Homo sapiens: one gene and its partners. The protein of the gene in region 6 purifies or fractionates together with the protein of the main gene of each other region. This does not show direct contact. Each region holds a gene or a part of one and is shown on either strand. Other genes may lie near its edges.

What was found.
Region 1: the proteins of FNDC3A (region 6) and AMOT purify together in Homo sapiens (affinity purification with mass spectrometry, with the first as the bait; one large-scale study listed by BioGRID). This does not show direct contact.
Region 2: the proteins of FNDC3A (region 6) and TRMT61B purify together in Homo sapiens (affinity purification with mass spectrometry, with the first as the bait; one large-scale study listed by BioGRID). This does not show direct contact.
Region 3: the proteins of FNDC3A (region 6) and ENAH purify together in Homo sapiens (affinity purification with mass spectrometry, with the first as the bait; one large-scale study listed by BioGRID). This does not show direct contact.
Region 4: the proteins of FNDC3A (region 6) and BZW2 purify together in Homo sapiens (affinity purification with mass spectrometry, with the first as the bait; one large-scale study listed by BioGRID). This does not show direct contact.
Region 5: the proteins of FNDC3A (region 6) and IDH1 purify together in Homo sapiens (affinity purification with mass spectrometry, with the first as the bait; one large-scale study listed by BioGRID). This does not show direct contact.
Region 7: the proteins of FNDC3A (region 6) and OAT purify together in Homo sapiens (affinity purification with mass spectrometry, with the first as the bait; one large-scale study listed by BioGRID). This does not show direct contact.

What each region holds. Positions count from the first base shown.
Region 1 is NC_000023.11:112,813,050-112,817,507, reverse strand, and holds part of AMOT (angiomotin), read left to right. Parts: intron 1-1,630; coding exon 1,631-2,150; intron 2,151-4,458.
Region 2 is NC_000002.12:28,863,362-28,867,819, reverse strand, and holds part of TRMT61B (tRNA (adenine(58)-N(1))-methyltransferase, mitochondrial precursor), read left to right. Parts: intron 1-2,700; coding exon 2,701-2,803; intron 2,804-4,458.
Region 3 is NC_000001.11:225,516,611-225,521,068, reverse strand, and holds part of ENAH (protein enabled homolog), read left to right. Parts: intron 1-1,503; coding exon 1,504-1,871; intron 1,872-3,078; coding exon of another isoform or gene 3,079-3,762; coding exon 3,763-3,873; intron 3,874-4,458. UniProt on the Homo sapiens protein: Ena/VASP proteins are actin-associated proteins involved in a range of processes dependent on cytoskeleton remodeling and cell polarity such as axon guidance and lamellipodial and filopodial dynamics in migrating cells.
Region 4 is NC_000007.14:16,687,232-16,691,689, reverse strand, and holds part of BZW2 (eIF5-mimic protein 1), read right to left. Parts: intron 1,894-4,458; coding exon 1,784-1,893; intron 1-1,783. UniProt on the Homo sapiens protein: Translation initiation regulator which represses non-AUG initiated translation and repeat-associated non-AUG (RAN) initiated translation by acting as a competitive inhibitor of eukaryotic translation initiation factor 5 (EIF5) function.
Region 5 is NC_000002.12:208,248,347-208,252,804, reverse strand, and holds part of IDH1 (isocitrate dehydrogenase [NADP] cytoplasmic), read left to right. Parts: intron 1-1,237; 5' UTR 1,238-1,253; coding exon 1,254-1,375; intron 1,376-4,144; coding exon 4,145-4,436; intron 4,437-4,458. UniProt on the Homo sapiens protein: Catalyzes the NADP(+)-dependent oxidative decarboxylation of isocitrate (D-threo-isocitrate) to 2-ketoglutarate (2-oxoglutarate), which is required by other enzymes such as the phytanoyl-CoA dioxygenase.
Region 6 is NC_000013.11:49,132,404-49,136,861, forward strand, and holds part of FNDC3A (fibronectin type-III domain-containing protein 3A), read left to right. Parts: intron 1-3,928; coding exon 3,929-4,198; intron 4,199-4,458. UniProt on the Homo sapiens protein: Mediates spermatid-Sertoli adhesion during spermatogenesis.
Region 7 is NC_000010.11:124,408,002-124,412,459, reverse strand, and holds part of OAT (ornithine aminotransferase, mitochondrial isoform 1 precursor), read left to right. Parts: intron 1-259; 5' UTR 260-288; coding exon 289-487; intron 488-3,494; coding exon 3,495-3,719; intron 3,720-3,822; coding exon 3,823-3,918; intron 3,919-4,458. UniProt on the Homo sapiens protein: Catalyzes the reversible interconversion of L-ornithine and 2-oxoglutarate to L-glutamate semialdehyde and L-glutamate.

The DNA of each region.
Region 1 (4,458 bases), on a different chromosome or scaffold from region 6:
TACATGAACAGTAATGGTAACTGGAGTGTGTGTCTGAGGAATGTGCTTTAGCATCTGGAATGCCAGTTAAAAGTTAATTGCTCCTGGTGATTTGTCCCAGTTCCACCATGAATTTTATGCAATTTATTGCAAAGATTAAATGGATATCCTTTAAGTAACAAGCTAACAAGGTCAGCTTATCTCACTGGGAGGTAGAGAAGTGACTGTAATTCCTATTCCGCCAAAAATGAGAAGACCCCAGTATTTTTGCAATTTATTTGTGACCTCAAGAATAAAATGGGCTCATGCAGATTAAGTAACTTGCACCAAGTTACACAGCTCGTGAGCAGTAGAAGAGGTCTCCAGACTCCCTCTGTTGGGATCCAGATCCCATGCACTTAGCCATCTGTCTTCCCTGGATTGAGAAATATCAACTGTAGAACAAGTGTCCACAGGACATGGGAGCATATGAGGTTAATTGGGCATGAGCTAGGGCATGAACAAGCTTTTTGTCTTCAGTGCACACTGACAGATACTATTCCTGGTAGTGGTGATGGTGGAAGTGATCCATCCACATACTAATTGTTTCCCTTAATGGCTAATAGTCATTAGGTATGAATTATTTATACTTAGGTGTTAGCATTTTGTACCTGGTAATTAGGTACAAAAATGGGAGAGCCACATTAAACAATGTACCAAAGGTCTCTTTCTGGAACTTTCTATGAGCAATAGGTTGGAAATCTAAGTATCAGTGCACAGAAATCAATGCATTATGGCAGTAGAAAAAGCCAGAAAATGGGAATTGGGAAAGAAGGATTCTATCTTGGCACCACCACTCTAATATTTGGCAGATGACTTCCCCTTTCTGGACCTCATTCCCCATCTGTCCAGTGATAGAGTTGAACTAAATAATTTTCTTTTAAGGCCTTTCCAGTTCTTACATTTTGCGATTCATTACATCAAAAATAGTATGTTAGCATTGCTTGTAACCCTCTTCAAGTCTTTTTATGGTTACTGCTAATGGGAATCATTAAATCGTTAACAACTGGAAGCAACAATAATCATTTAGTGTCTCTAATATAAGTATCTACCAATCCTTGAATAGTTTTTTTTCTTTTTTTTTGTGAATGTATGAATTACTAAAGGGAGTTGCAGATAGCAAGATGGGGGTGGTTTTTATGGCTGTTTGTTGTTTCCATCCTGGCAAATGGAACATAGTTTCTAAACTAGGATCTTTATGTGTGCTGGACCACGTGTATAATGTCAGAAAAGGTTTAATTTAAAATAATGAGATGAAAATTACCTTGTAGAAGAATCGTTTGAAATGTTTAGACTTGAGCAAACGGGTGTACAGGTGTGTATCACTACGATTTTCACAAAGTGACCATGGAAGTTGTCTGGTTCTGACCCTCATGGGATCACACCTCTGTTTGTCAGGCAGAGGCACAGAAGGTCAGGCTGGAAAAGGGCTGTGGTCTTTGCAGAGATAGAGCAGGCAGGGTTAGACTTCCCCATAGTCAGACCCTGCCTGCTCTTCATTTTGCAGGTGTCCTGGGGGCATCAGAAGCCTCCTCATCTCACTTTTGTGTGCCCTTCTCCCCCAGTGCCTTAGGAGAGAAATTAACCCGCACCTGCCCTTCATGTTTTACAGGCCAGCGCAGGACATCTCATTGCCATTGTCAGCCAGGAACTCGCAGCCTCACAGCCCTACTTCTTCTCTGACCTCTGGGGGGTCCTTGCCCTTGCTACAATCTCCACCATCCACTAGATTGTCTCCTGCCCGACACCCCTTGGTCCCAAACCAGGGAGACCATTCAGCTCACCTGCCTAGGCCGCAGCAGCATTTCCTTCCTAATCAGGCTCACCAGGGGGATCATTACCGTCTCTCCCAACCTGGCCTGAGTCAGCAGCAGCAGCAACAGCAGCAGCAGCACCATCATCACCATCACCACCAACAACAGCAGCAGCAGCAGCCACAGCAGCAGCCAGGAGAAGCCTATTCAGCTATGCCTCGGGCTCAGCCATCCTCTGCTTCTTATCAGCCAGTGCCAGCAGACCCTTTTGCCATTGTTTCCAGAGCCCAGCAGATGGTTGAGATCCTCTCAGACGAGAACCGGAACTTGAGGCAAGAGTTGGAAGGATGCTATGAGAAGGTGGCAAGACTGCAGAAGGTGAGGCTTCCGTTTTGGGATATTAGGGTCTCTAAGTCTTTATTTGTGAGACTTGTTTAATATCCACATTAAAGTCTCCAGTTGTGAATCCCAGCATTACTTGTGGCAGGTCTTCAGGATTTTTATATCTGAAGGTTAGATATGAGTCAAACTTTGGAAAAAGCCTTCTACCTGTCTACCTAGGAGAAGTAACGTCTTACATTTACACAAGGAGAAAAAAATTTATGCAGTTTTTCCAGACGCTATAGCCCTAAAGAAAACGTGATTAATTCTTTTAGAATTCCAAAAGGCAGTGATACTTCTTGATAAGAATACTGGTGATGCCTTTATAGGTAAAGGATCTGACGGCACCTTAAGGCTCATTGTCTTGGTCACATTTTCCCAAATATGAATTTGAATCTTAAATATAAAAATAAATGTAGTTCCTAGAAAAATCTCACCAGCTAAAGTTTGAGCAGTCCTGCCTTGTTCTGGAAAAGGCTCAGAATACTTTTTCCTAGTGGGAGTTCTCATAGTAACTCTCTTTCAACAATCCCTCCACCCCACCCTTTGATTTGGTCCCTCCCTGCAGCTCAAATTCAACATCTGCTCTCTTTCTCTGTTGTATGTGGGGGGCAGGAGGGGCTTAACACCACAGCTGGGTGACAGGTGACAGCCCTAGGCTGAGGAAATAGAAAAAGGAGTGTATCTCCAGTTCACATTCTTCTCTGCCCACCCCCATTGGGACTTTACCTCTGGAGTACCCCAAGCGAGGAACCTTAGCTCTTGGCTTCCAGGGGCTGCTGGTGAATAGGGTTATGCCTTTGGCCGCTTCTTTGCAGCTTTTGTCATTGTGGAGCTATTGTGGTTTGGTCTCCCTACAATGTGAACTGTTCAGAGAGGTGAGGGTGAAGGTGGGGGAGGGACAGGAGGATGCCTTGTATTGTCCAGCAACTCTGTCCTTAGGAAACACCAGGAGTGAAAATTTCAGAGGCCTGAATGAAGCTGAGTATTTGTAAACAGACACCAAATCTGGGGGCCTCAAGGAGACAGGGGCTTATTATCAGCAGATGATTTTTTTTCTTTCTTTCTTTTTTTTTTTTTTTGAGACGGAGTCTCGCTCTTGTTACCTAGCCTGCAGTGCAATGGCACGATCTCCACTCACTGCAACTTCCGCCTCCTGGGTTCAAGCAGTTCTCCTGCCTCAGCCTCCTGAGTAGCTGGGATTACAGGCATGTGTCACCACGCCTGGCTAATTTTGTATTTTTAGTAGAGACGGGGTTTCTCCATGTTGGCCAGGCTGGTCTCGAACTCCCGACCTCAGGTGATCCGCCCGCCTTGGTCTCCCAAAGTGCTGGGATTATAGGCGTGAGCCACTGCGCCTGGCAAACAGAGGATTTTTATATAGGAAAATGGCTTCCCTGTCCCTTAGTTTTCCTAAATCTGGATGAGGGTTGTTGGAGTGCTCTGAGAATTGTTTCTTCCCGGCTTTTCCCTGATTTTGTATTTTCACCCGCAAATTTTAACTATATCCCTATCCCCATCGCTTTGGTGAAATAAATTAATTATATCCATACACTAGAAACCCAGTCTGGCTGATTAGGCTAACAGTTGACACCCCCTCTCCAAACTCTCTCTTCATGGTGATCCCAGCCCATCTTTGATACAATCACTGAAGGATGAACCCAGCTCTAATACGGGCCCTTTTTGCCAGAGGATCCATGGTGATTTTTTGTGTGTGTGGGAGTGGGTTCAGCCAGTGACAGGGAAGAGGGACAGAGAATAGGATTGCTGTTGTTTGTTCCCCAAGATGGGAAAAGATGCCTCAAATAAGTGTAACTGGAACAGCTTGAATGTTGGGAAAGTAGAGGCTGACCCAGTGTCGAGGTAGAGTAGAGGGGAAGGTGGACCAGGAGAGGAAAAGGAAAGTGGGGAAAATTAAGGTAGATCCCAGGTAGTGCTGGAGGAAATGAAAAGGCCTGAGGCTCATGAGGGGAATAAGTAGACAGAGTAAGTCTGGAAAACCCACTGCCACCCTCCTCTCTGCCCCCACCATCACCCAGCCCAAACCAGTGGATATATCCTTCTGTGATGGCTTTTCCTGGAAGGCCCTATTGAGAGCTGTGGGACTTGCCCTTTTGAAGGATGGAGTATCTACACAGGGGGTAGGGGAAGGATTAGTACAAGATCTTGAAATAGCAGTCTGCACACCTTGAGGAAAGGGACTACCTTCTAGGTGTTGCATTCTGTGCACAACCGGACAGCCTTGAACTATAAATGCTGCCCAGAGCAGACCAACACCAAGCCTGCTCTTTCAGATGGAAATGTT
Region 2 (4,458 bases), on a different chromosome or scaffold from region 6:
TTGAGGGTGCTGGGATTACAGGTGAGAACGACCGCTCCTGGCCATGGTATCATAAGCTCTTGAAGAAAACTAAAAGACTTTCGTAATTTTATCTTGCTTCCCCGTGTCTCCTTTCTCCCCATTAGACAAAATCAGGAGAGATTAGTTACATTTCATGAAGTTATAAATATGCATATTTAGTATACTTTCTGCCTTTCCATTTGTTACAGATAAAAGTCACATTGTTCCACTCTAAGGAGGAATTTAAGTACTAAATTTGTTAGGTGTTGACTTCTCTTTATAGCTTCCAAGTAATGGCTGGAGATAGTTTTACTTCAACTTCTACAACTTTGAAATGCTTGAGGGAATACCTTCACTGATGTTTAAAAACTGATCTCCCTGTTAGAATTACATAATTCCATCTTAGTATTAAAAATATGACCAGAGGCAGAGTGCAGTGGCTCACACTTGTAATCTCAATATTTTGGGAGGCTGAGGCAGGAGGATCATTTGAGCCCAGAAGTTTGAGACCAGCCGGGGCAACATAGGGAGACCTTGTCTCTACAAAAAATAAAAAATTAGCCAGGTATGCTGGCACACACTTGTGGTCCCAGCTACGCAGGAGGCTGAGATGGGAGGATTGTTTGAGCCCAGGAGTTTGAGGCTGCAGCGAGCCATGATCTTGCCACTGCACTCCAGCCTGGGCAACAGTGTAAGATCCTATCTCAAAAAAAAAGTGAGGGGGCAGGTGCCGTCACTCACACCTGTAATCTCAGTGCTTTGTGAGGCCAAGGCAGGAGGATTGCTGGAGGCTAGGAGTTCAAGACTAACCTGGCCAACATAGCAGGACCCCATCTTTATAAAAAATAAAAAAAAAATTAGTTGGGCATGGTGGTACATGCCTGTGGTCCCAGCTACTTTGGAGGCTGAGGTAGGAGGATTGCTTGAGCCCAGAAGTTCGAGGCTGCCGTGAGCTACTATTGCACTACTACACTCCAGTCTGAGTGACAGAGACCCTGTCACCAAGAAAATTTGTTTACTAAATTTAAAAAAACAGTTTTTATTAATATCATCCGTAATATTTGTGTTAACAAAAACAATTCCAATTATATGTTTGGCAAGTGGGTCCTCCAATCTAGTAATAGCATAGTCTCTTTTTTTTCTTATATAGCAGGGCTCCCCTACCCCCAGGCTGAGGACTGGTACCAGTGTGTGGCCTGTAACAGGGAACCGGGCCACACAGCAGGTTAGCGGTGGGTAGTGAGCATTACTGCCTGAGCTCCATCTCTTGTCAGATCAGCCATGGCATTAGATTCTCATAGGAGTGCAAACTCTTGTGAACTGTGCATGCACCAGATCTAGGTTGCATGCTCCTTATAAGAAACTAACTAATGCCTGATGATCTGAGGTGGAACAATTTCATCCCAAAACCATCCCCCTCTCCCCAGTCTGTGGAAAAACTGTCTTCCACGAAACGGGTCCCTAGTGCCCAAAAGGTTGGGGACCGCTGTTATATAGTATCTTAATTCTAAATTAGAAGTTCATCATTTGGCCAGGCACGTTGGCTCACACCTGTAATCCCAGCACTTTAGGAGGCCGAGGCGGGCAGATCACCTGAAATCAGGAGTTTGAGACCAGCCTGGCCAACATGGTGAAACCCCATCTCTACTAAAAATACAAAAAATTAGCTGGGTGTGGTGGTGGGTGCCTGTAATCCCAGCTACTTGGGAGGCTGAAGCAGGAGAATCGCTTGAACCCAGGAGGCGGAGCTTGCAGTGAGCCAAGATTGTACCACTGCACTCCAGCCTGGGTGACAGAGCGAGACTCTGTCCCCCCAAAAATAAGAAGTTCATCATTTTGAGCTGGGCACACTGGCTCACACCTGTAATCCCAGCACTGTGGGAGGCTGAGGCGAGCGGATCACCTGAGGTCAGGAGTTCAAGACCAGCCTGGCCAACGTGGTGAAACCCCATCTCCACTAAAAATACAAAAATTAGCCGGGCATGGTGGCAGGCACCTGTAATCCCAGCTATTCGGGAGGCTGAGGCAGGAGAATCGCTTGAACCCGGGAGGCGGAGGTTGCAGTGAGCCAAGATCGTGCCATCACACTCCAGCCTGGGGGACAAGAGTGAGACTTCGTCTCCCAAAAAAAAAAAAAAAAAAAAAAAGGAAATTCATCATTTTATGCAGAGATTATATAGTAAATTCCTAACTGGTCTTCCTGCCTCTTGATTTTTCTCCAGTAGATCCTGTATTCTTCTGCCAGATTAATCCTCATAAAATGCCATTTATATCACCTCAGTGACACACCCTAGTTGCTTATCAGGCTGAGTTCTAATGCCTCATACTGGCATTTAATTCTCTGCCTATCTCTCCTGAGATAACAAACTGGATTTATTCTACCTCTGCTTTGTTTAAAGCTGTTTTTACCTTGTGATTGTTCCCATAAATTGTCTACTCTTTGTCTTTAAACTAGGCCATCCTGCTACTCTATGAACTTATTGTCTGTAATTTTGGTATTATTCTGAAGTGTTGCCTTATTTGTTAATTGATTCTTGGATCTCTTTTATTTCATCAAGTGAAATATAAACTGAAGGCAGGTCCAGAGTCTGATTCGTTTTTTCACTCCCTTCTTCTGCACACCCAACAATGTAAGATAAGACTAGGTGCTTAGTACATATTTATTGGTCGCTGAGTCACCCATACTGTTTTCAATCATAGGATATTAATATGATTCTCTCAATGATGGATATCAACCCAGGTGATACTGTTTTGGAAGCTGGCTCAGGCTCTGGTGGAATGAGCTTATTTTTATCCAAAGCAGGTAAGAGATTGGACTGAGCTGGATCTCAGTAACAAAGAAAACATTCAATTTGTTCATAATAACAGAAAGGTATAAAGATATTTGGGAAAATACCTAACATTGAGGTAGCATTCTCCTAGAATCTGAAAGTAAGCAACTATTTTTCTTTCCATTCTGTACATTTATTCCAGTCAGTCTCTTTCTAATCCTCCCTCAATTTTCTTTGCTTTGTTTTACTTTCTCCATGCTCTCTAATGCTGCTTCTTTTTTCTTAAGTATACTTTTTATTGGAATATAATATGGCTACAGAAAAGTGTGCAGATCATAAGTGTATATCTCAATGAATCTTTGTATAGTGACCACTCATGTACTTATTACCGAGATCAAGGTAGGGAGTGTCCCTGCCCCACAGATGCCTCCTCATGTCCCCTCCCAGTCCTTATCATCACCAAAGGAAACCACTATTGTGACTTTTATCATCACTGATTAGTTTTGCCTCCTTCGAACTTATATAAAATGGAATCATACAGTATGTGCTCCTTTGTATCTGGCTACTCTCATTCATTATTATGTTTGTGAGATTCACTCATTGCATGCAGCAGTAGTTCTTTCATTTTAGTTGCTGTATAATACTCTCTATTTAAATCACAATTTACCTATTTTACTGTTGATAGACATTTGAGTTGGATATTACAAATAGTGCTGCTTGGAACCTCCTTGTGTACTTGTCATGTTATTGTTGAATACTAGTGCCAGGTGAATACTTAGCCTGAGGGAATATGGAAGGACGTTGTCAGCTGTTGGGGGGAGAGTTATATATCGTTAGGGCCAAAGAATTATAGTAGGTGTTCATAAAGAAATTAATCATAGTACAGAGCTATTAAGTAAAAAGCTAGATCATGAAGAATTATCTTTTTTTTTTCCAGAAAGTCTCTAAAAATTGTCAGTTGGTAAAAGTACTGCTTGAAGGTGGGTGTCTGATCAAAAATCAAGAGGTGTATATTAAACATATATATTTTTTCATGTTCCTACCACTTAATTTCTAGTTACTTTTATGCTAGTTGATTAGTACCTCTTTGCCTACCTAATTTCTCTGAGTGTCAGGGTTGCTTTGGGTGGTCTGTCTGTGCAGTGTTCTCTTCCCTACATAATACTAGACTGCTGAATAGTCACAGTACTTTCTTTGAGTAGATTTTATAAAGATTACAGATAGAAATATGCTGAAATTAAACTCACACCTTTTGTTCTTTGACCTAATGTCTTCACATATGAATATTATCTAGATTATACTAAGCCGGTAAATTCATTCTGGGCTCCTCAATCAATCTTTTGTTTGACTTTTCTGTACATAGTTAAAGGCAGTCATTTTCTCATCATCTATGACAAATTCCTAACTGCACGGTTTCATTTGACAAAGTGGATTTATAAAAATTGGTGAGAACAGATAAGTGCCTATATTTCTAAAATATATAGTATCAGAAGAGTGTCATGGCTTGAATAATCCTAAACTATAAATGTGCAAGAACTTATTGCTATTTACCTATGTGATGGATATTTTTCTCCATATTTTCTTTTCCAGTTGTTTATGTTACTTTTTTTTTTTTTTTGAGGCGGGTTCTCACTCTGTTCCCCAGTTTGGAATGCAGTGGTATGATCGTGGCTCACTACAGCCTTGA
Region 3 (4,458 bases), on a different chromosome or scaffold from region 6:
TGTGTGTGTGCGCGCGCGTGCGTGTGTCCATCCAGAGTTGTACACACAGGCAGGTTCTCATCCCAGATATCCTCAGTTTTACTAACTTATGTCTCCCTCCCTCCCTCCCTCCCTCCCTCCCTCCCTCCCTCCCTCCCTCCCTCCCTTCCTCCCTTCCTTCCCTTCTTTTTCTTCCTTCCCCGCTTCCTCCTTTCTTTTCTTTCATTGTTTTTGGAGACAAGGTGTCATTCTGTTGCCTGGGCTGATGTGTGATGATGCAATCTTATCTTACTGTAGCCTCAGACTCCTAGGCCCAAGCAATCCTTCTCCCTCAGCCTCCCAAGTAGCTGGGAATACAGGTGCATGGCACCATGCCTGGCTGATTTTAAAATTTTTTGTAGAGATGGGTCTTGCTTTGTTGTGCAGGCCCATCTTGAACTCTTGGGTTCAGACAATCCTCCCACTCAGCCTCCCAAAGTGCTAGGATTACAGCTGAGCCACTGCTCCCAGACCAACTTTCACAATATATTAAGTGAGAGAAAGGAAAGCAGATTTCACAGTAGCGGGAAATGGTTACATTTTATTTTGTTTTTAAAGTTTATATGTGTATTTTTACACAAGGGGAAGTCTAGAGGTATATAGGGGTGCGTGTGTGCGCGTATGTGTATATATAGATGTGTGTCTTTATATACATATGTTGATGATAGTTGCCTCTGGATATGAGATTTCAATCATTTAAAGTTTATTTCTTCTTTCTTGACTCTTTTTCATTCAGTAAACTTTTTTTTTTTTTTTGAGGTGGAGTCTTGCTCTGTCACCCAGGCTGGAGTGCAGTGGCACGATCTCGGCTCACTGCAGCCTCTGCCTCCCAGGTTCAAGCGATTCTCCTGCCTCAGCCTCCCAAGTAGCTGGGATTATAGGCGCACGCTACCATGCCCGGCTAATTTTTTATATTTTTGGTAGAGATGGGGTTTCACCATGTTGGCCAGGCCAGTCTCGAACTCCTGACCTCAAGTGATGCACCTGCCTCGGCCTCCCAAAGTGCTGGGATTACAGGTGTGAGTCACTACACCTGGCCCATTCAGTAAATATTTATTGAGCTATTGCTGTGGCCAGTCATTGTATTTTCTGAAATATTATTTGTACAATTAAATTTGATATTAAGGATATTACAATTACAAATGTTTTCACTAAATAATTAAAATAATGACTTGGTTATTAAAGTGGTATGTTATTTGGAAAATTCATTTACTTGCAACACTACTCATGAAAAGTACAGAATAAAATGAAATGTTAGTGCAATGTGCTGAAGCATTCAGCCAATATGATGCTAATAGGAGAAATGATTTTCATTTGTATGAAACAGTCTCTATCCAAGGTAGCCTTCATGTGGGAGGAGAGATGTTTGCATGCTCTACATTGCTTTTATTTGACTCAGAAATAGTTTACATAGGTGAAAAGAATCGCTTTTTCATGATGAGTAGCCATAGATGCATGTTTTTACTTTTTTTTTTTTTTTTCCAGACAACTACAAGAACAGCAACGGCAAAAGGAGCTGGAGCGGGAAAGGCTGGAGCGAGAAAGAATGGAAAGAGAAAGGTTGGAGAGAGAGAGGTTAGAAAGGGAAAGGCTGGAGAGGGAGCGACTGGAACAAGAACAGCTGGAGAGAGAGAGACAAGAACGGGAACGGCAGGAACGCCTGGAGCGGCAGGAACGCCTGGAGCGGCAGGAACGCCTGGAGCGGCAGGAACGCCTGGATCGGGAGAGGCAAGAAAGACAAGAACGAGAGAGGCTGGAGAGACTGGAACGGGAGAGGCAAGAAAGGGAGCGACAAGAGCAGTTAGAAAGGGAACAGCTGGAATGGGAGAGAGAGCGCAGAATATCAAGTGCTGGTAAGAAGTTTACAAACTCTTCTGTGTTCTTGTATCTGAGCTTGGATGATGTCTCTTGTGCAGTCATGTGTTAAAATATTTCACATTTGAGATGTTTGGGATTAAGCCATACAATTTGAAATTATGAATAAATATGCAGCAATTACTACTTTAACATTTTCTTTTTATTTCTCTCTGTATTGCTTTTATTGCTTGGAGACTTAAAGAAAGCTCTTGGAAATTTTTATTCTGCCATTCTAATTCTTCTAACACCCTATAAAATGGCTATAAAGTGTAAGTGTGTTTTTATGGGAAATTTTTTATACTGGATGAACTTCAAATATATTTCCCTCATGAGATCACTTAAATTGTCTCAAATACTATAGTACTGTAGTACCATTCAGCAAGAAATTTGCTTGATTGCATTCTAAAGATTTTGGAGGAAGAATTATTTTAGAGAAATATTCTCTAAGACTAGTTATTTAAATATGCTTTCTAGTATTATGAAAAATTAGTGAAAATTATGGAATCTGGAATTTACTGAAAGACATAAGGGTTAATATATGGCTGAAAGTTTGAGATATTTTAACGTTTATTAAAATTAACATTCATTATAGGATTTAAGAATATTCCTTATGGCCTAATTAAAAAGTCTTAATGTGGTTTGATTAAACAGTGGTTGGTTGGTTGGTTTATTAAGTTAATTTATGTATTTTTAGCTACCTAATTATTTTCTGGAGTTATGGCCAACAAAACAAAACTTTTCCACAAGTTAGCATTGAATAGGAGCATTGAACCCTTCATATTAAATGTTTTGCCAGCTTTACTAGTTTTGCTATTTGTTGTTTTTAAAAAAACAACTAAATTTATTCTTCTGTTTATGGTCCTATTCATGTGATTTTAATGTCCTTTTTCTTGTAGACTAAATAAAAATTAAGACTAATACTAGCTTTTTCTTGTAAAAGAAATTAGTCAATTAAATTTATTAATCCACTTATTAGATAAAAGGAAACTTATTTCATCCCCTTCTGAATCTCAAAATGTATTTACAAGTTAAAATATTCTTGGGTGAAAATAGTTATTTGCGTTTGTGCCTAATTCTCTGATACTAACTGTAGTCTACATTTATACATTGTGTCTGAATGCTGGTTTTGTGGCTTCACTAGCTCCCTTTTTCTCTCTCCTTTTTTATCCTGTCTTTTGCTGCTGCTTTCCACCTTCTGTCCAGCTCCATCTTCAGACAGCTCCCTGTATAACGCTCCACTTCCTGAGTATTCCAGTTGCCAGCCTCCTTCAGCACCTCCTCCATCATACGCTAAAGTCATCTCAGCTCCAGTGTCAGATGCCACTCCTGATTATGCTGTAGTGACTGCTTTGCCACCTACTTCCACACCCCCTACACCACCACTGCGACACTCAGCGACACGTTTTGCAACATCTTTAGGTTCAGCCTTCCACCCTGTTCTTCCCCATTACGCTACAGTTCCTCGTCCTCTGAACAAAAACTCTCGACCTTCTTCTCCTGTGAACACACCCTCTTCTCAGCCTCCAGCTACGAAGCCCTGTGCCTGGTCTACTTCCAATTTTTCGCCCCTCCCTCCATCTCCTCCAATAATGATTAGCAGCCCCCCAGGCAAAGCTACTGGTCCAAGGCCTGTCCTCCCTGTTTGTGTTTCTTCTCCTGTGCCCCAAATGCCTCCATCACCGACAGCACCCAATGGGCTGGTTGACTCTGTAACATATCCAGTGTCTCCACCGCCTACCTCAGGGCCAGCAGCTCCTCCGCCGCCGCCTCCACTGCCTTCCCTCGCATCACTCTCACACTGTGGATCTCAAGCTTCTCCTCCTCCAAGCACCCCTATTGCCTCAACTCCCTCATCCAAGCCTAGTGTTCTCCCTTCTCCCTCTGCAGCTGCCCCTGCCTCTGTTGAGACTCCTCTAAACTCTGTGCTGGGAGACTCTTCTGCTTCTGAGCCAGGCTTGCAGGCAGCCTCTCAGCCGGCCGAGACTCCATCCCAACAGGGTAAGGCTTTCATTATTGCTACTAACAGCTAATCACTTGAAAATGTTATATAGCAGTGACTTTAATTGCCTGAATGGATGGGTAGGATGGTTTTGATCCTTGAACATTTATATGCCATAATGCCATGCTTTTTTTTTTTTTAATTAAAAAAATTAAAGTAGAAAAATGTTTTTCCTGTTGGATTAATTGCATTTGGAGGAATTTCCTTATTGAACTAGGTTTTGATATCTTTTATAGTATCGCAGTTAAAGATGTTTTCTAGTATTTAAGAGCCCCTCATAATACATTTCTTTATTTTTTTCTTTTTTTTTTTTGTTTTTTTGAGACAGAGTCTTGCTGTGTTGCCCAGGCTGGAGTAGAGTGGCACGATCTCAGCTCACTGCAACCTCCACCTCCCGGGTTCCAGCAATTCTCCTGCCTTAGCCAGCTGAGTAGCAGGAGTTACAGGCACATGCCACCACGCCTGGCTAATTTTTGTATTTTTAGTAGAGACAGGGTTTTGTCATGTTGGCCAGGCTGGTCTTGAACTCCTGACCTCATGTGATCTGCCCCTTCGGCCTCCCAAAGTTGCTAGGATTACAAGTG
Region 4 (4,458 bases), on a different chromosome or scaffold from region 6:
TAAGAGAACCCCCTCCTTGCTATGTCTATCTGCAGAGGTGGAGAAGCAGCCTATTAGTGGATTGGATTTTCCCAATCTATTGCCAGGCATGGCAGCGTCCATAGGTGAGTTTTTAAGGTACTTGAGACGTTCAGTTCAGTCTCTGTGTTCTGGTACTTTGCCATGAAGACAGAATGGCCCAGATGGGAGCTGCTCCCTCAGCCTGTGCCCGAATGAAAAGGCATGTGGAACTAAGCCAGGCTTAGCCAAGATAGAGCTAATCTATAGACAACCCACAGCCTCATGGACAAGAAATATGTTCCCTTCATATGAACCTCCACCTTCCTCAGCAACCTATTCACTTATCTTCTGTGACTTTTGCTTCTGTTTACAGGGATTTGCCCTAAGTCCACTAGAAAGTAGGTTTCACGAGGGCAGGCAACTTTTCTATCCTGTTCTCTACTGGCTCTGCAGCTTGTGGTACCATGCCCAGCACAGGGTAGACATTCAGGAAACATGAGGAATGAAAATTATTATGAACTAGAATCTAGACTTCTGTACCTTTTTTACCATAATCTAAAAACTTTAAACACACAAATCTATTTAAGGTAAACTTCAAGAAACAAAGTATTCTTAAGTGATTTAAATTGCAAGTATTTACATTTAAAATTACTTTCATGTGTTCTTGAGGAAAAGAGATAGTCTTAGAATTATCTCATGGGACTGGACCCTTGCACACTGAAACACATTGGAAGAGAACAACAGAGAACAGGCCAGGTGAAGAGATGGCAGCGCTGTGTCTTATTTTTACACTTCATCCTAGAACTGTAAAAGCAATTCCACCTGGAGAAATCTTGGCATTTCACAGCTGCTGCATCAAGAAGAAAGAAATTGTAGGGAGCAGATAGAAATTACAAGAACAAAATATTTTTCTGGATTTTCTTAGAAAAACACAAAGATGGAGAAATAAAAATATAATCAAGCAATTGTGACACAATTAACTTGTTTAATTTCTGCAACAGCTTAAGTATTTCCAGGGAAATCTTGTTTAAACTTTTATTTTGTTAGCAAACTATTTAACACACATTTGAGATTAGCACAGTCTGACTGCTACTCAAGACAGACATCACAAGTATTTGATTAAGTGAGATTGATGAAATTTTTATCATATTAAAACCTTAAAATGTCTAGAAAGTTATGATTATAGGCTGAGTGTGGTGGCTCACGCCTATAATCCCAGCACTTTGGGAGGCTGAGGTGGGCGGATTACTTGAGGTCAGGAGTTCAAGACTAACCTGGCCAACATGGTGAAACCCCGTCTCTATTAAAAAAAATCCAAAAATTAGCTGGGTGTGGTGGAGAGCACCTGTAATCCCACCTACTCGGGAGGCTGAGGCAGGAGAATTGTTTGAACTCCGGAGGCAGAGGTTGCAGTGAGCGAGATTGTGCCATTGCACTCCAGCCTGGGTGACAGAGCCAGACTCTGTCTCAAAAAAAAAAAAAGTAAAAAAGTTATGGCTATAAAACAAAGTCTTAATTCTGATGAAATGTTAATACTATGTCAACAAACTTACAAATTTGGAAGTCTATATTCTTCACAATTCTTTAATTTTATTGTGCCATTTGTTCACAAAATAAAGATTAAAATGAAATTAGCTTCTACTACCAATTACACAGAAATAAAAGGAACAGTGCTCCAAGTCAACACAGATCCAGGGATCTTACTCATATACTACATTGCAGGCATTGCTTAAGCTCCAAGAAAGGCATCATACATACAACTCTTTAACCAGAAAACACTTACAAGCAGCCTCTTGTCTAAGTTGGCTTTTCTCAAAGACGAGGTAACAGAGTTGGCATCTTTTTCTGCCATCCATGCTTTGAAAAGCTTGACAGCAAATGAGGCCGCAATGCCTGTTGAAAAACAAAAGAGAATTTCATTCCTTTTACGAGCAAAACCAATTGTGATGGTGTGCAAAGCAACCAGGTTTCCTGAAATGTGTAAATAACTAAAAGACTAATTTTGGTACAAATGAAAAGTCAATAGACCTCTAGGCAAATTCTCCTCTTCTCATTACTCAAACTAGAACATTTTCAGGAAAAGGAAAATAAATTAAAATATTTTTCAAATTTGGACTCCTTGAATCCAACCTGGTCTAACTGCAAGTTTATTTTATTTTACCTTGGTCAAAAACATATTTCACACCCAGTATCTTTGGTGTTATTGCCTTTATTTCACCCTCTGGTTCATATGTATTTCATCTTTATAACAGTGATCTTGAGGCACAAGAAAGTAAATTAGGAGACACAAAACTGTAATGTCACCTTTATCAAGTAATTTGCTAATAAAGGATGCCAGTACAAGAACACTGATAGTGATAGATACAATAAGTATTGCTACGAATAGATGAACACATATCATTTACCTTAGTTTTGCTTTTTATAAAAAGCATTTTATTTATTTATTTTTATTTTTATTTTTGGGGGGATGGAGTCTCACTCTGTCGCCCAGGCTGGAGTGAAGTAGCACGATCTCGGCTCACTGCAATCTTCACCTCCTGGGTTCAAGTGATTCTCCTGCCTCAGCCTCCCAAGTAGCTGGGATTACAGGCATGCACCACCACACCCAGCTAATTTTTGTATTTTTAGTAGAGACAGGGTTTCGCCATGTTGGGCAGGCTAGTCCTGAACGCTTGACCTCAGGTGATCCACCTGCCTTGGCCTCCCAAATTGCTGGGATTGCAGGCATGAGCCATTGCACGCAGCCATAAAAAGCATTTTAAAATATTCTTGAGTTAAGCTATAAAAATACCAAGGCTGTTTCAAGTTAAACTCTTCTGGATTTAAAAAAAAATCATTATTAAGCTAGTTATGTTAAATCAGGAAACCATTTAATCACATGTCCACATTTACATTACCACTTATTTCCAAATAGAAATAATCAGATAACAAGAAGACAGTTCTATGAACACTTCAAATTTCTAAATTTATGTTGCGGTTATTTAATGAAGAGTTAAGATGTAACTGAAACATTTAACTGATTTTTCTAAACTGAAGGTTCTACTATTGTTATGAGCTAATGATAATGTGGCCTAAGCAGCCTCTATTCTCTTTACCTCCTTCCTAAAAGAGGTCCCCTTTTATCCAGTCCAGGTGACTACTGATTAGTCTAAGTCCTGGTACCACCCCTTTCTGATGATTAATTTAGTGACCTCGCTTAAGCTCATCTGCCCAAGGCACGCCCCTGGCAATTGCTACTGGACCTGCACTAGTCATGCAGCCTGTGTCAGCCAATCAGCTGAAGGAAAGATAAATTATCCTCTGTTCAGGAGAAGTGTTCTTCCACTGAACCTGAACCAGGAAGAATATGCCATAACTGTGTCAGCAGGCATCTTATAACAACTAGAGGGGGCACCATCCTTGGGATGAAGTTAATGCTATGAATGATAACAGGAGAAAAATACTTAAGTCCTGAATGATACTGCTGTTCAGCCTGAGGTCTGTCCTAATTTTCTATTTATTGTTACATAAGAAATCCATGTCCTTATATACCAATTTGACCCAGGTCTTCCAGCAACTGGAAAGTAAAAGCATTTAATTGGTCTATCATTCATATAGACACCAACTAAACCTGATTTTCTTCCCTTGAATAAGCAAAGAAACTAAGTTAAAAAAAAAACAAAAACGGCTATAACAACAAAACATGCATTACACCTTAACTGAAAGTTCATGTTAAACAACTTAAGATGAATTTTTAGCATTATCATTAGCTCATAAAACCAATATAAAATTTAATATAAATTAACACTAGGCTGTAATCTGTATCGTAAAGAAAAACTACGCTTGAAACTAGGAGCCTAAAACTGAGATTTAACTTTCTTTATAGTTACTCCTCTGAGTAGGATAATCCCATCTCCCTTGGTCATTTATTGGATGAGCTGGGGAAAATGATTAATTTCTTAACCATTTTCTTTATTTCTTTTTTTTTATTTTAGATAGTCTTTCTCTGTTGCCCAGGCTGTAGTAAGATGATGTGATTATAGCTCACTGTAGCCCCAAACTCCTGGGCTCAAGCAATCCTCTTGCCTTAGTCTCCTGAGCAGCTGGGATTGTACAGGTGTGCCAACACACCTGGCTAGTTTTTAAATTTTTTTTTGTAGAGAAGAGAGTCTTGCTTTGTTTCCCAGACTGGTCTCAAACTCCTGGCCTCAAGCAATTTTTTTACCTCAGCTTCCCAAAGTGTTAGGATTACAGGCATGAGTTACCATACCCAGCATTTTCTTAATCCTTTTCCAATTAGGAAGCAAGGGTTTAAACCTCTAGTTTGTAAAAGATGGCAGAGTTTAAGGAAAAGCCATATAACAGAGGTACTATGTTACTTCCATAGCAAAGTTATTTTTCTCCTCACCACCCCCCAAACATTTTACTACAATAATTTCCAGACATACAGAAAAGTTGAACAAATTGAACAATGAACAT
Region 5 (4,458 bases), on a different chromosome or scaffold from region 6:
TGAAAATGGGCCTGGGGATTGGAAATACATCCAGGCTTGTCAAGAAACAGACGCTTACTGTCTACTAATCATTACATTTTTATTTAAAGACCAAATTACTTTAGCTCAATTTTTCAAGAAAGACTATTTTAGGCTTCTTATCTAATAATTCTTTAAAGTCAATTCTCTTGACTTTTTTAGTCCTTAAGAGAATAAAAGCAATTTGCAGCTGTGTTGTTGGATTAAAAAAGAGTTTCGATTAGAGCATCATTAGAAGGAATAGATAACTTTTAGCAGGCTCAGAGCTTCTTCTGCCTCTAGGGACAAGCTGGGACAGTTTCATTTCTTCCAAAGCGTCCAACCTTGCACTTTCTGAGAATCAGATTGATTTGTATATGCTACCCCCACACCCTATCCTTAAAGTGCTGTCTTCCTAGGACAATGCACAGTTTGTCCTATCCCACTCACTAGCAGCTTACCCTTGCCTGTGAACAGCCAGAAGAAGATGACAGGGACATGCTTGGGTCCTGGGCAGTGGCCCTACTGTATAGAGATTCTTCTAATTGAGAAATCACTTTGTTGTATTTAGCCCCACATCTCCAATGTCTGTGTTATCTCTAGGAAAACAGTTCCACCAGGAATTCTTCGTCTCGCTTTTAGACTTAAAGTTTCCCTGAATATGGGTCACAGGAACCAGCTGAATCTCCTCATGGCTAGTTATTTTTATTAAATAACAAAAACAGCCTCTTAAAGGAGGAGAAATGCTAGCACTCACCATTCTGGACATCTTGAGAGCCCAGTAAAATGATGAGTTGGACTGAAGTGTTCAATAAACATGAGATTGTGGAAATAATCTCATTTCTTAAGACAAACCAGTAGTTGAGAATAATGATTGCATTATGAAGGGCACGTTATAGGGTCAGGCTCTGCCACGCTCTAGCTAGGTGGCCTTGGGAAAGCTCTTTTTTTTTTAACAAAGTAAAATGGGGAAATGATGGCCATTTTTTTGGATTGTTATGAGGGCTAGCTCAGAAACCGCGTGTGAAACATAACACAATACTTTGTTCAGAGAAGATACTCAATTCTAATGGTAAATAGAATTGCTGTTACTAGCTTTTTATTCAACTACACATAAATTGAATTGCATGAATTGTTCTTTTAGTAGTCACTACGTTGTTTATATAAACACTACGTTGTTTATATATTTCACTTTATAATGAAATAAATGACAAGGCATGTATTTTTTTTTTCTTTTTAGGTTTATTGAAGTCAAAATGTCCAAAAAAATCAGTGGCGGTTCTGTGGTAGAGATGCAAGGAGATGAAATGACACGAATCATTTGGGAATTGATTAAAGAGAAACTCATTTTTCCCTACGTGGAATTGGATCTACATAGGTAAATGAGTTACCCCTCCGTGTAGCAAACTCAGAAAGGATAATCTGGCTGGGCATGGTGGTGCACACGTGAAGTCCCAGCTACTTAGGAGGCAGAGGCAGGAGGATCCCTCAAGACCAGGAATTCAAGTCCAGCCTGGGCAACAGAGTGAGACCCCATCACTTTAAAAAAAAAAGGAAAAAAAAGGGAAGGAGAAACAGGAAAAAAAAAAAGAATATAATCTGAATTATTTTGAGGTGAAGTTAGCTTTTTTTATATAGATATAGCTGTGTTTTGTGAATAAAGTTTGTTTTAAGCCTAAATATATTCAGATGAATCTTCTAATTTTAACATACTGCTAGAAAAACTGGATTTATCATCTAAAAGTCAAGAATTATAAGGGAAAGAATGATTTTCAGATTCTTCTAACCTTCTGTTTCCTGTGAAGGTTTTATTTGTAATAAAACAGTGGCTAAGAATAGTACAATGTATTGAGAAAAGGGAAATAAGAGAGGATGTAAGAAACAGTAAACTAAATGCAGTTAACACAATTTTGTCATTTCAAACTCAATTTTCTATCACTTTACTTAGTCAATGGACCTGTTTCCTTTTCATGCCTCACCTTTTGCCCTTTTCATACAATTGTAGTGCAGAAAGAATTCATGATGTTTCTTAGTTGAACCCCTCCTTTCCAGCAAAATTCCCTTAAATCCTGTGTCCCTTTGCCCTGTGTGTAAAGTGCCTGGGGACAGATGCAAAAGTCTATGTAATTCTCTCATTTTTTTCGCTGTGTTTTTCATAAACTTGCTTCTGTTCTTTGTACCTTTAGGTAGAGATAGAATTTTTAAAAGGGTAAAGTGGCTGAAGACTGGCATAGAAAAATATTGAGCAACACGTTTCAGCCAAACTATTGGCAACTCTAAGTGTGTTTGCCTCAGCCCAGAATTAGTCATCAAAATTTGTCCTAAGGACCTGTTTGAGTGGAGACATTTAATTCACATAATGTCATTAAACATACTTTTTAATTGTTCTAAACCTAAGCTGCTGATGTCTATATTGAAATCATGATAAGATATAAATACTTGCAGAAGTCAACCAAACATAAGAAATTAGGCATAAAAACATCTTCCAACTAGGTTAAAAAAAAAAAGCATCTTAGGAACTCCTGTTTCAGGACTTTACATGACAGTAGGTGAACTGGCAGGGTTCTTTTCCTTATAATGGCTGCAACTAAAGATGCTTTGAGCCTCTTTAGTGTGGAATCATGAGGAGTTTTAAAGGGGAGTCACTATGACTAGGAGGAAAAAATTTGGTGGCTGCAGACTAGATAATTTTTGGAGGCTCAAACAAGTTTTAAATTTTTCCAAAATTCCTATTATTATCACTGACTGGTTCTTTTTCAGGAGAATGGAGCAGGTAGTTTGTTTTATGTAGGCTGGACAGTGGTCTGGGCAATTTGTTCCTTCCTTTCTTATCTTCTTAGAAATGTTAAGAAGACAAGCAAAAAATCTAATAATTTGCTGATAGATTCTCCTTATGAGAAATGGTTCCTAGGAACTTGAAAACTACTGATCATACTTCCTGTTGGAGTTGGGATTGGATCAACATTTCCTATGCAAGAAGATAACAAAGGACATGACTTTGTTAGATTTATATGAATTATCTAAAGTCGAAGCAGTTGGAAGTTATTTTTATTTGGAAATATGTCAAGATTACTATCTCTTTGTTTGCATCATGAGTTGGGTAGGAGATCTAAGAAAGGAAGATAAGGGAACCAAAAAGAAATCTAGAGGCAGGTTTTAAGAGCTGAAAAACCTTTTAAATCCTTGGAGAACAGAATAAACAAAACATTATTTTGTTTTCTTGCTTTTTAACAAACTATTGCATGCTTCAAATAAAGCTTTGCAGTCATTTTCTATGCTCCCTGGACAACTAACATTCTTTCAGCTCTGAATGACCTGCAATCTTTGTGTTGGTGTATATTAAGCTATTACTCTCTGGTATGTAGAAAACCATTGATGGATTCCTTTACTTACCCAATAAATTGTAGGCTTGTTTCCAGAGCAAACACTTGCTCAAGAATTACAGAAGGAATTAGCTGGGCATGGTGGTGCATGCCTGTAGTCCCCGCTACTGGGGAGGCTGAGGCGGGGGAATCACTTGAACCCAGGAAGGCAGAGGTTGAGTGAGCCAAGATCGTGCCACTGCACTCCAGCCTGGGCAACAAAACGAGACTCATCTAAAAAAAAAAAAAAAAGGGAAAGGCTCATTTTATGACTAACTGGCATTAATGAAGTAGTCATTCGCATTTTTGGCATCAACTGTCACATCTTTACCTCCCACCACTTCAACGTCAAAATACAAAAAATCCTTTAACCCCTCCCACCCCCTTTTATTTTTAAAGAGCAATATTTACTAAGGGAAAAAGGTGGTCCTTAGACTTACACTTATTATACTAATTATATGGAGAGAAACCAGGCCATTATTGCCTCTATCTGGTGAAAAACAGGAGGCAAAGGGCAGAGTTTGATGGTTTCCATTCATTTTCCTGATAGACAGCTTCCCATTACAAGAGGAGGGGCAGCCCAGCAGTCTAGCCTCTCTTAGTTCTCTTTGTAGTTGGCACCCATCTTCTGTGTTTAGGGTGTGCCAGTGCTAAAACTTGGCAGATTTTGGTGTACTCAGAGCCTTCGCTTTCTGCATAATGAGCTCTATATGCCATCACTGCAGTTGTAGGTTATAACTATCCATTTGTCTGAAAAACTTTGCTTCTAATTTTTCTCTTTCAAGCTATGATTTAGGCATAGAGAATCGTGATGCCACCAACGACCAAGTCACCAAGGATGCTGCAGAAGCTATAAAGAAGCATAATGTTGGCGTCAAATGTGCCACTATCACTCCTGATGAGAAGAGGGTTGAGGAGTTCAAGTTGAAACAAATGTGGAAATCACCAAATGGCACCATACGAAATATTCTGGGTGGCACGGTCTTCAGAGAAGCCATTATCTGCAAAAATATCCCCCGGCTTGTGAGTGGATGGGTAAAACCTATCATCATAGGTCGTCATGCTTATGGGGATCAAGTAAGTCATGTTGGCAATAATG
Region 6 (4,458 bases):
CTATTGATGTTTTAGGACGGATAAGTCTTCATTGTAGAGGACAAAACTCTGCACTGTAGGATGTTTAAAGGCATCCCTGGCCTCTACTCACTAACTGCCATTGTGTAGCACAGTTGTAGCACACAACTCTGACACAACATTTTAAATATTCTGACATCTAAAAATATCTCCAGACATTTCCAAATGATCCCTAGGAACCAAAATTAGTTCTGGTTGCAAACTGCTCTTGCAATGTTCTGCCCTGTGGCCCCTGACTTCCTTGTCCCATTGCTTCCCCTTAGTCCCCTTATTTCTTCAGTTTTTCAAAACCACCAAGTTCTTTCTTGCCTCGGTCCCTGTGTACATGGTGTTCTCTCTGCCTTTTCTGTAAATTTCCTTTAACCTTTGGATTTCAGTTTTCAGAGAGACCTTCCTGATCTTACCTTGTTAGTCTCTAGCACTGAACTTTGTATCTTTCACAGAACTTAACACAATTTCTTTTTTGTCATTGTGTATTTGTATGGCTGTCTCCCTTATTTGACTATCAACTCCCTAAGAACTGAATCTATTTTAATCACTATTGTTTCCCTGCACTTAGCATTGCCTGTCACTTATGCTCAGTACATTTGCAGAAGAAATAACTTCAAATACAAAATTGAAATTACACAACACAGCCTGTAAATAGTGGATATATTGTACACATCATATGTATTTGTCAAACTTATTTCTATTGCCCAAGTAATGCAAATTGGTTCAGTAGCTCTGGGTAGTGCTTGAGATTCTGCATTTCTAACAAGCCCCTAGGAGATGTTCATGCTGTGCTCCAAGGAACATACTTTTGAGTACCAAAAGTTTATACTGCAGATTAGTCTCATCCTATTTTTGTTTACTGCTAATTATGACTTAGTTTTAAAAATATTAATTTTTTCTTATAATCTGAGAAAACTATAAGAAAAAGCTAGTATTACAATTATTACTATTTTGCATTGTTAAAACCCCTTGTTATTCTGTAGGGATATGCATTAGAATACATGGATGTGATCTACATTGATATGAAGGAAAGTGAAGGGCACAAATCCACAAATTAGCTACCCAGTGGTAAAAGGGAGGAGTCATGTTGTACTTGAGGTTATAAGCCAGAGATTCTACCACTAAATGCTAATTATTGACAGTACTGGTTTTCTAACCAATGGCTATACCTCCGTGATGTCCTTTCCATGCACAATCCATATGGATTCTCAAAGTGGAATCTGATCCAGCATTTCACTGTTAGCAGTACCATTAGTGAGCCTGAACCTTGCTAGGCACTATGCTCACACATGTATTATCTCACTTAATTTTCAATAAAATTCTGCAAAATTCAAATGAGGAAACCGAGGCTCAGAAATGTTAAGTAATTTCTGCAAGGCCACACTGCTAGTTAATTGCTCAGAATTTTAACCCTCTCAGATCTATTCAATGATTAAGTTCCTTCTCTTTCTACTATAATATATTCTTTTTTCTCTTCCATGGTAGCTTTATTATTTTGAATAATAGATAAAGCATTTTAAAGTATGTACTAATTGATCTAATTGATTGCAGTTGCTATTTTTCTTAACTTTTTGTCGAGATATAATTTAGGTAACAGTTCATCATTTTACACTTCAGTGGTTTTTAATATATTTACTTTATTGTGCAACATATGCAACTCAATGTTTTCTATATTCAGTATGTACTGTATTAAGTACCACTGTCTAATTCCAGAACATTTCTATCATCCCAAAAAAGAAACTGTGCATATTAACAGTCAGTCCCAACTCTCTGTTCCTTCACATCCCATGATCTACTTTCTGTCTGTATGGGTTTGCCTATTCTAGACTTCATATAAATATACATATAAGTATTTCATATAAAAATTTCATTAAAATGTTCATACAGTATGTAGACTTTTGTGTCTAGTTTTTTTTCACTTAATGTCATGTTTTCAAAGTTCATGTTCTCACATATAATAGTACTTCGTTCCTTTTTATGGCTGCAATAATATTGCATTCTGTTGATTACATTTTATCACTCATTAGCTGATGGACCTTTGGGTTGTTTTCACTTTTTGTCTATGAACAATACTGCTGTGACCATTTGTGTAAAAGTTTTTGTGTTGACATATTTTCATTTCTTCCGGGTATGTGCCTCAGAGTGGAATTGCTGGGTCATATGTTAATTCTATATTACTTTTCCACAGTGACTACACCATTTTATATTCCTACCAGCAATGTATGAGGGTTCCAATTTCTTTGCCAAAACTTGATATCGTCTGTCTTTTGATTGTAGGCATCCTGAATAAATTTCTCTCTCATTATGGTTTTGATTTGCTTTTCCCTAATGCTACTAATGTTGATCATCTTTTCATGTGCTTATTGGCCATTTGTATATTTTCTTTTCCTTTTTTTTTTTTTTTTTTTTTTTGAGATGGAGTTTCACTCTTTTTTTTTTTTTTTTTTTTTTTTTGAGACAGAGTCTCGCTCTGTCGCCCAGGCTGGAGTGCAGTGGCATGATCTCGGCTCACTGCAACCTCTGCCCTCTGCCTCCCAGGTTCAAATGATTCTCCTGCCTCAGCCTCGCGAATAGCTGGGATTACAGGTGCGCGCCACCACGCCCGGCTAATTTTTTGTATTTTTAGTAGAGATGGGATTTCACCATCTTGGCCAGGCCGGTCTTGAACTCCTGACCTTGTGATCCACCTGCCTCACCCTCCCAAAGTGCTGGGATTACAGGCGTGAGCCACTGCGCCCAGCCCCATTCATATATTTTCTTTGGAGAAATGTCTATTTGAATTCTTCACCCATTTTTTAAATGGGTGGGATATTTGTCTTTTTATTGTTGAAAGGTAAGAGTATATATATTCTGGATACAAGTTCCTTATCAGATATATGATTTCCTCCCTTGTTGTTTTTTCACTTTCCTTGTGGTATCCTTTAGTGCAGAAAAGTTTTTAATTCTGATGAAATCTAATTTTTTCTTTGATTGCTTGTGTTTTTGGTGTCTCGTCTAAGAAACTATTGCCAAATCCAAGGTCATAGAGACGTGTTTTCTTCTAAGAGTTCTATAGTTTAATCTCTTACATTTGGGTCATTGATTCATTTGAATTAATTTTTGTATATGGTGTGAGGTAGAGGTCCACGTTCATTCTAATGTTATTGTACATATCCTTATAATACTCATTTCAAAAATACTGTACTAATTTTCTTAAGGCACTGCTAAATTAAAACTTTTTACTGAGGCTTTTAAAAAATATTTTTCTCATCACAAATTTTAAATTTAAAAAACTCTGGGGACAATTGAATTAATATTTATTGAGCATAATGACTTAATTATGTTCCTATGTGACTTTTATTAGAATGAGTGGATTCTTCTAAATCACAACCTTGAGTTTATAGTATCTGAAGATACATTATATGTAGATTGTTATTGTTAAACAGTCTAAATCATTTCTTTTGGCTAACTTTTTTTCAGTGATGATTGCTTTTTTGAGTTATAAGGGAATTTAGGCAGGCAGTGGTTTTCTTTTTACCTATTTTATGTGTTTAAGGTTCAAAAAGATGTGAAAAGTAATAGTTACTAAAGAGTAAAAGAAAAAGAACTGTGGACTGCTCAGCTCCAGTCTCATTCCTCACCTACAATAATCATAAGTTACCACCAAGCTGTTTCTATGGAGATTAATAATTAGTTGAGAACAGAAGGAAATAAATCTCTCTGTAAATTTACTTGAGAGAGAGATATATATAATTAGAATAAATCACAAAGCTTGGTTCTGATAGTTTATGGAGACACAAAGGTTGCTTTGTTATGCAAAATTCTTTTAAATATTTTATAAAAGTTTTATATGATAGATTTATTTTCTGTTCTTTTTTCATGGCATAAACTTATTTGGAGAAAGTGATCTTCTTAACATTTTGTTTTTATTGCCTCCTAGATGCTCACTCTACACATGGAAGGTCCAACTTTAGAGATGAACGATCTAGTAAAACATATGAACGTTTGCAGAAAAAATTGAAGGATCGCCAAGGAACACAGAAAGATAAAATGAGCAGTCCACCATCATCACCCCAGAAATGCCCTTCTCCCATTAATGAACATAATGGACTTATAAAAGGACAAATTGCTGGTGGTATAAACACAGGATCAGCAAAAATCAAGTCTGGGAAGGGGAAAGGTGGTACACAAGTTGATACAGAAATTGAAGGTAACTGTTTGAAGTACTGAACTGTTCTCATTGATGCTATTCTCGTGATTTAACCTACTAAAAGTATATTCTAACCTTTCAGTCATTTTGTCATGGTCCAAATAGACTGTTACAGGCTGCTGCTTTCGACAGTTTGGAAAGCCTCAATTAGTAATTTCATCTATATCGTAAATTTTACTGACTGAAATTTCTATTTGATAGGAAAACTCAGAGAACATTAATCCAGATTCCTTTCTTCTGATTCTGGGCGTTTGATAAGG
Region 7 (4,458 bases), on a different chromosome or scaffold from region 6:
CAGCTCACTGCAGCCTCAACTTCCGGGCTCAAGCAATCCTCCCACCTCAGTCTCCTGAGTAGCTGGGACTGCAGATGCATACCACTACACCCAGCTAATTTTTCAATTTTTTTTAGTGATGGAGTCTTGCTCTGTTGCCCAGGCTGGTCTCAAACTCCTGGGCTCACGTGATCCTTTGACCTCAGCCTCCCAAAGTGCTGAGATTATAGGCATAAGCCAAGGATTCTCACTCTTAATGCATTCTCTTTTCTTTGGACAGATCTGTGGTTTTTCTACTTGAAGGACACAATGTTTTCCAAACTAGCACATTTGCAGAGGTTTGCTGTACTTAGTCGCGGAGTTCATTCTTCAGTGGCTTCTGCTACATCTGTTGCAACTAAAAAAACAGTCCAAGGCCCTCCAACCTCTGATGACATTTTTGAAAGGGAATATAAGTATGGTGCACACAACTACCATCCTTTACCTGTAGCCCTGGAGAGAGGAAAAGGTACGTTTCAAATTAATCCGTCTTTTCCCTTTTCTTGAAACCTTTTATAAAAAAAAATTGCTTCCATATTTTCACAATATACATTTTTCTAGATGTGTTTAATGTGTATATTGCAGACATGGTTAATTCTTCTTCTTCTTTTTTTTTTTTTTTTTTTGAGACGGAGTCTCACTCTGTCACCCAGGCTGGAGTACAGTGGCACAATCCCAGCTCACTGCAACCTCTGCCTCCCAGGTTCAAGCGATTCTTCTGCCTCAGCCTCCTGAGTAGCTGGGACTACAGGCGTGCGCCACCACACCCAGCTAATTTTTGTATTTTTAGTAGAGATGGGGTTTCACCATGTTGGCCAGGCTGGTCTCAGACTCCTGACTTTGTGATCCTCCCACCTTGGCCTCCCAAAGTGCTGGGATTACAGGTGTGAGCCACCACGCCTGGCCAGTTAATTCATTTATTGAGTGTCTAGTGCTGCTGTGTTAGGTGCTATGGAGGCTTCAAAGAGGAACCATTGTCTTTGTCATGTAGACCTTACCAAGAGGGAATGCAAGAGAAATAAGGAAAGTACTATCATATTGCTGTCATTTTTTTCTTTTAACTTTTATTTTGGCATAGTTTTAGACTTAAGAAAAGTTGTAACAAATAGTACTGACATTTTCCTTTTATACTTCTCCCAGATTTTCCAAGTGCTAACTTTTTGCTGCTTTGGTCTTAGTGTGTTCACTCCCTTCTCTTCTCCCCCCGCCGCCTGCATATTCTACATTGTTTTCTGAACTGTTTTGAGAGGAAGTTGCAGACATGACATCTCTTCTTCTTTTTTTTTTTTTTTTTTTTTTTTTGAGACGGAATGTCGCTTTGTCACCCAGGCTGGAGTGCAATGGTGGGATCTCGGCTCACTGCAACCTCTACCTCTCGGTTTCAAGTGATTCTCTTGCCTCAGCCTCCCGAGGAGCTGGGACTACAGGCCCACGCCACCACGTCCAGCTAATTTTTGTATTTTTAGTAGAGACAGGGTTTCATCATGTTGGCCGGGCTGGTCTCGAACTCCTGACCTCAGGTGATCCACCCACCTCAGCCTCCCAAAGTGCTGGATTACAGGCGTGAGCCACCGCGCCCCGCCACATGACATCTCTTTACCCATAAATACTTAGTGTGTCTTTCCAAAAACGCAATGACTTTTTGAGATAGGGTCTCATTCTGTTGCCCAGGCTGGAGTTCAGTGGTGTGATCATGGCTCACTGCAGCCTGGAACTCCCGGCTTCAGGTGATTTTCCCACCTCAGCTTCCCAAGTAGCTGGGACTACAGGTGTGCCTTACCATGCCTGGCTTATTTTTTGTAGAGATTAGATTTTGCTATGTTGCCCAGGGTGATCTTGAACTCCTGGTCTCAAGTGATCCTACCACTCAGCCTCCCACAGTGCTGGGATTGCAGGTGTGAGCTACTGTGCCCAGCTGACTTTCTCTTTTATAACCATAGAGTAATTGTAAAAATCAAGAACTTAACACTGGTACAGCACCATTAGTCTAGAGACCTAATCCAGATGTCATTTGTTCTCTTTTATAACAAAAGAAAAACCTCCGATGAGTTGCATTCAGTTGTCATGTTTAGTCTTCTTTAACCCAGAACAGTTCCTCAATCCTTGGTTGTCTTGGTCTTCTTTCCCTTTGTATTAAGTATCTTGTGGGGACAGAGTGTAAAACTCTGTAAATATCCAGTTACTCATGAACTTTTACTCACAATTTCAGCATCCACTAATGATTCTTGCCTGAATAAATGATTACGGTGGTAGTTGCCAAATGGTGATTTAATCTACAATTTGGAATAAATAACAGCCTTAACCAAATAAAACCAAAGTTTATTACTTAGCTTTGTACCAGAAAATGACAATATAAGAGTATCACACATTTTGGTCATTTGCTTGTATTTTATTTGGTACCAGTACTGTAGACATATCTTCTTTTGAACTATTGAAAATCTGTTTCATATTACATGACATGGCAACCTTGTTTTTACTTTCCCACTAGCAATGTATGAGAGTGCCAATTTCTTCAGATCCTTGTCAAAAGTTGTTTTTTTAATTATAACCATCCCAGGGAGTATGAGATGGTATCTCATTGTGGTTTTAACTTGCATTTTCCTAATGATTAGTGATGTTGAACATCTTTTCATGTGTTTCTTGCCATTTGTATATCTTCTTTGAAGAAATAGCTATTCAAGTCTTTCCCCATTTTTTAAATTGGGTTGTTTGTCCTTTTGAAATTGAGTTGTAAGAATTCTGGATATTAGATCCTTATCAGACACATGATTTACAAATATTTTTTTTCCATCCTAAGGGTTATTACAGTCTACTTCTCATGATTTTTGTCTGTTATGTGTAACTTCTGCTTTTTTATTTTTAAATTTTATTTATTTTATTTTTTTTTTTTATAGGCAGGATTTTGCTCTGGTGCCCAGGCTGGAGTGCAGTGGCACAATCTCAACTCACTGCATCCTCTACCTCCCAGGCTCAAGCAATCCTCCCACCTCAGCCTCTGTAACGGGACCATACGCGCGCACTACCATGCCCAGCATTTTTCTGTAGCGTCAGGGATTTTGCCGTGTTGTCCAGGCTGATCTGGAACTCCTGGGCTCAAGCAATCCCTGCCTTGGTCTCCCAAAGTGCTAGGATTACAGGCGTGAGCCACGGCTCCCTGCCTAACTTCTGCTTTTAAATTCTAATTTTGGATCCTAAATCTTAGAATTAGGTAAAGGTTTTACTCCAGAGTTTATAACCTTTTTGTGTTATTTTTGTTAAATGTGTGTTTTGAAGCTGGGCAGATAAAATACAATTCTTAGTAATTCCTTACAAACCAAAGTTTATTATGCCTGAGCTAAAACAAGCTTTAACTACAAATATGTATTAAATAGAGGTTCATATATAGGCATTCAGAGGGCTTGCTAGCACTCTTAATTTTTGGACTTTATGCCGTATAGTAATTGTCTAAAATTATTTTCCTTTCTTATGTATTTTAGGTATTTACTTATGGGATGTAGAAGGCAGAAAATATTTTGACTTCCTGAGTTCTTACAGTGCTGTCAACCAAGGGCATTGTCACCCCAAGATTGTGAATGCTCTGAAGAGTCAAGTGGACAAATTGACCTTAACATCTAGAGCTTTCTATAATAACGTACTTGGTGAATATGAGGAGTATATTACTAAACTTTTCAACTACCACAAAGTTCTTCCTATGAATACAGGTAAAACATTTCCTTTTTTTGTTAAATACCCTCAAAAATAATCTTTTTATTTTTTGATAGTTTAACATTTTAAAAAAATCTGAACATTTTTCTCTCCTGATAGGAGTGGAGGCTGGAGAGACTGCCTGTAAACTAGCTCGTAAGTGGGGCTATACCGTGAAGGGCATTCAGAAATACAAAGCAAAGATTGTTTTTGCAGGTATGTGAAATTAAATATTAACTTCTATGATTGAAACATACAATATAATTTACTGTGGCCAGGCATGGTGGCTCATGCCTGTAATCCTAGCATTTTGGGAGGCCAAGGCAGGAGGAGTCTTTGAGCCCTGGAGTTCAAGACCAGCCTTCTGGGCAACATAGGGAGACCCTGTCTCTATTTAAAAAAAAAAAAAAAAAATATATATATATATATATATATATATACACACACACACACACACACACACACACACACACTTATATATTTTATATATAAAAAACATATATATATGTGTAAATTTACTGTTTTAATTTGCTGATGAAATACTTGTAATATGTTTTGCCTGGTACATGATACGTATTTGCTGAATGTTTCATAAAAATTTATGAGGGATTTCCTCTTCTTGGGATTATTTCTTCATATATGAGATTTTTCTTTCTGAACTCCATATTCCTCTCATTTGCCTGTCAGATTTTTTTCATAGCAGTTATCCAGTTAATTAGATAGTCTCACTGGTGGAGGGTTTGTGTTGGGTGCTGG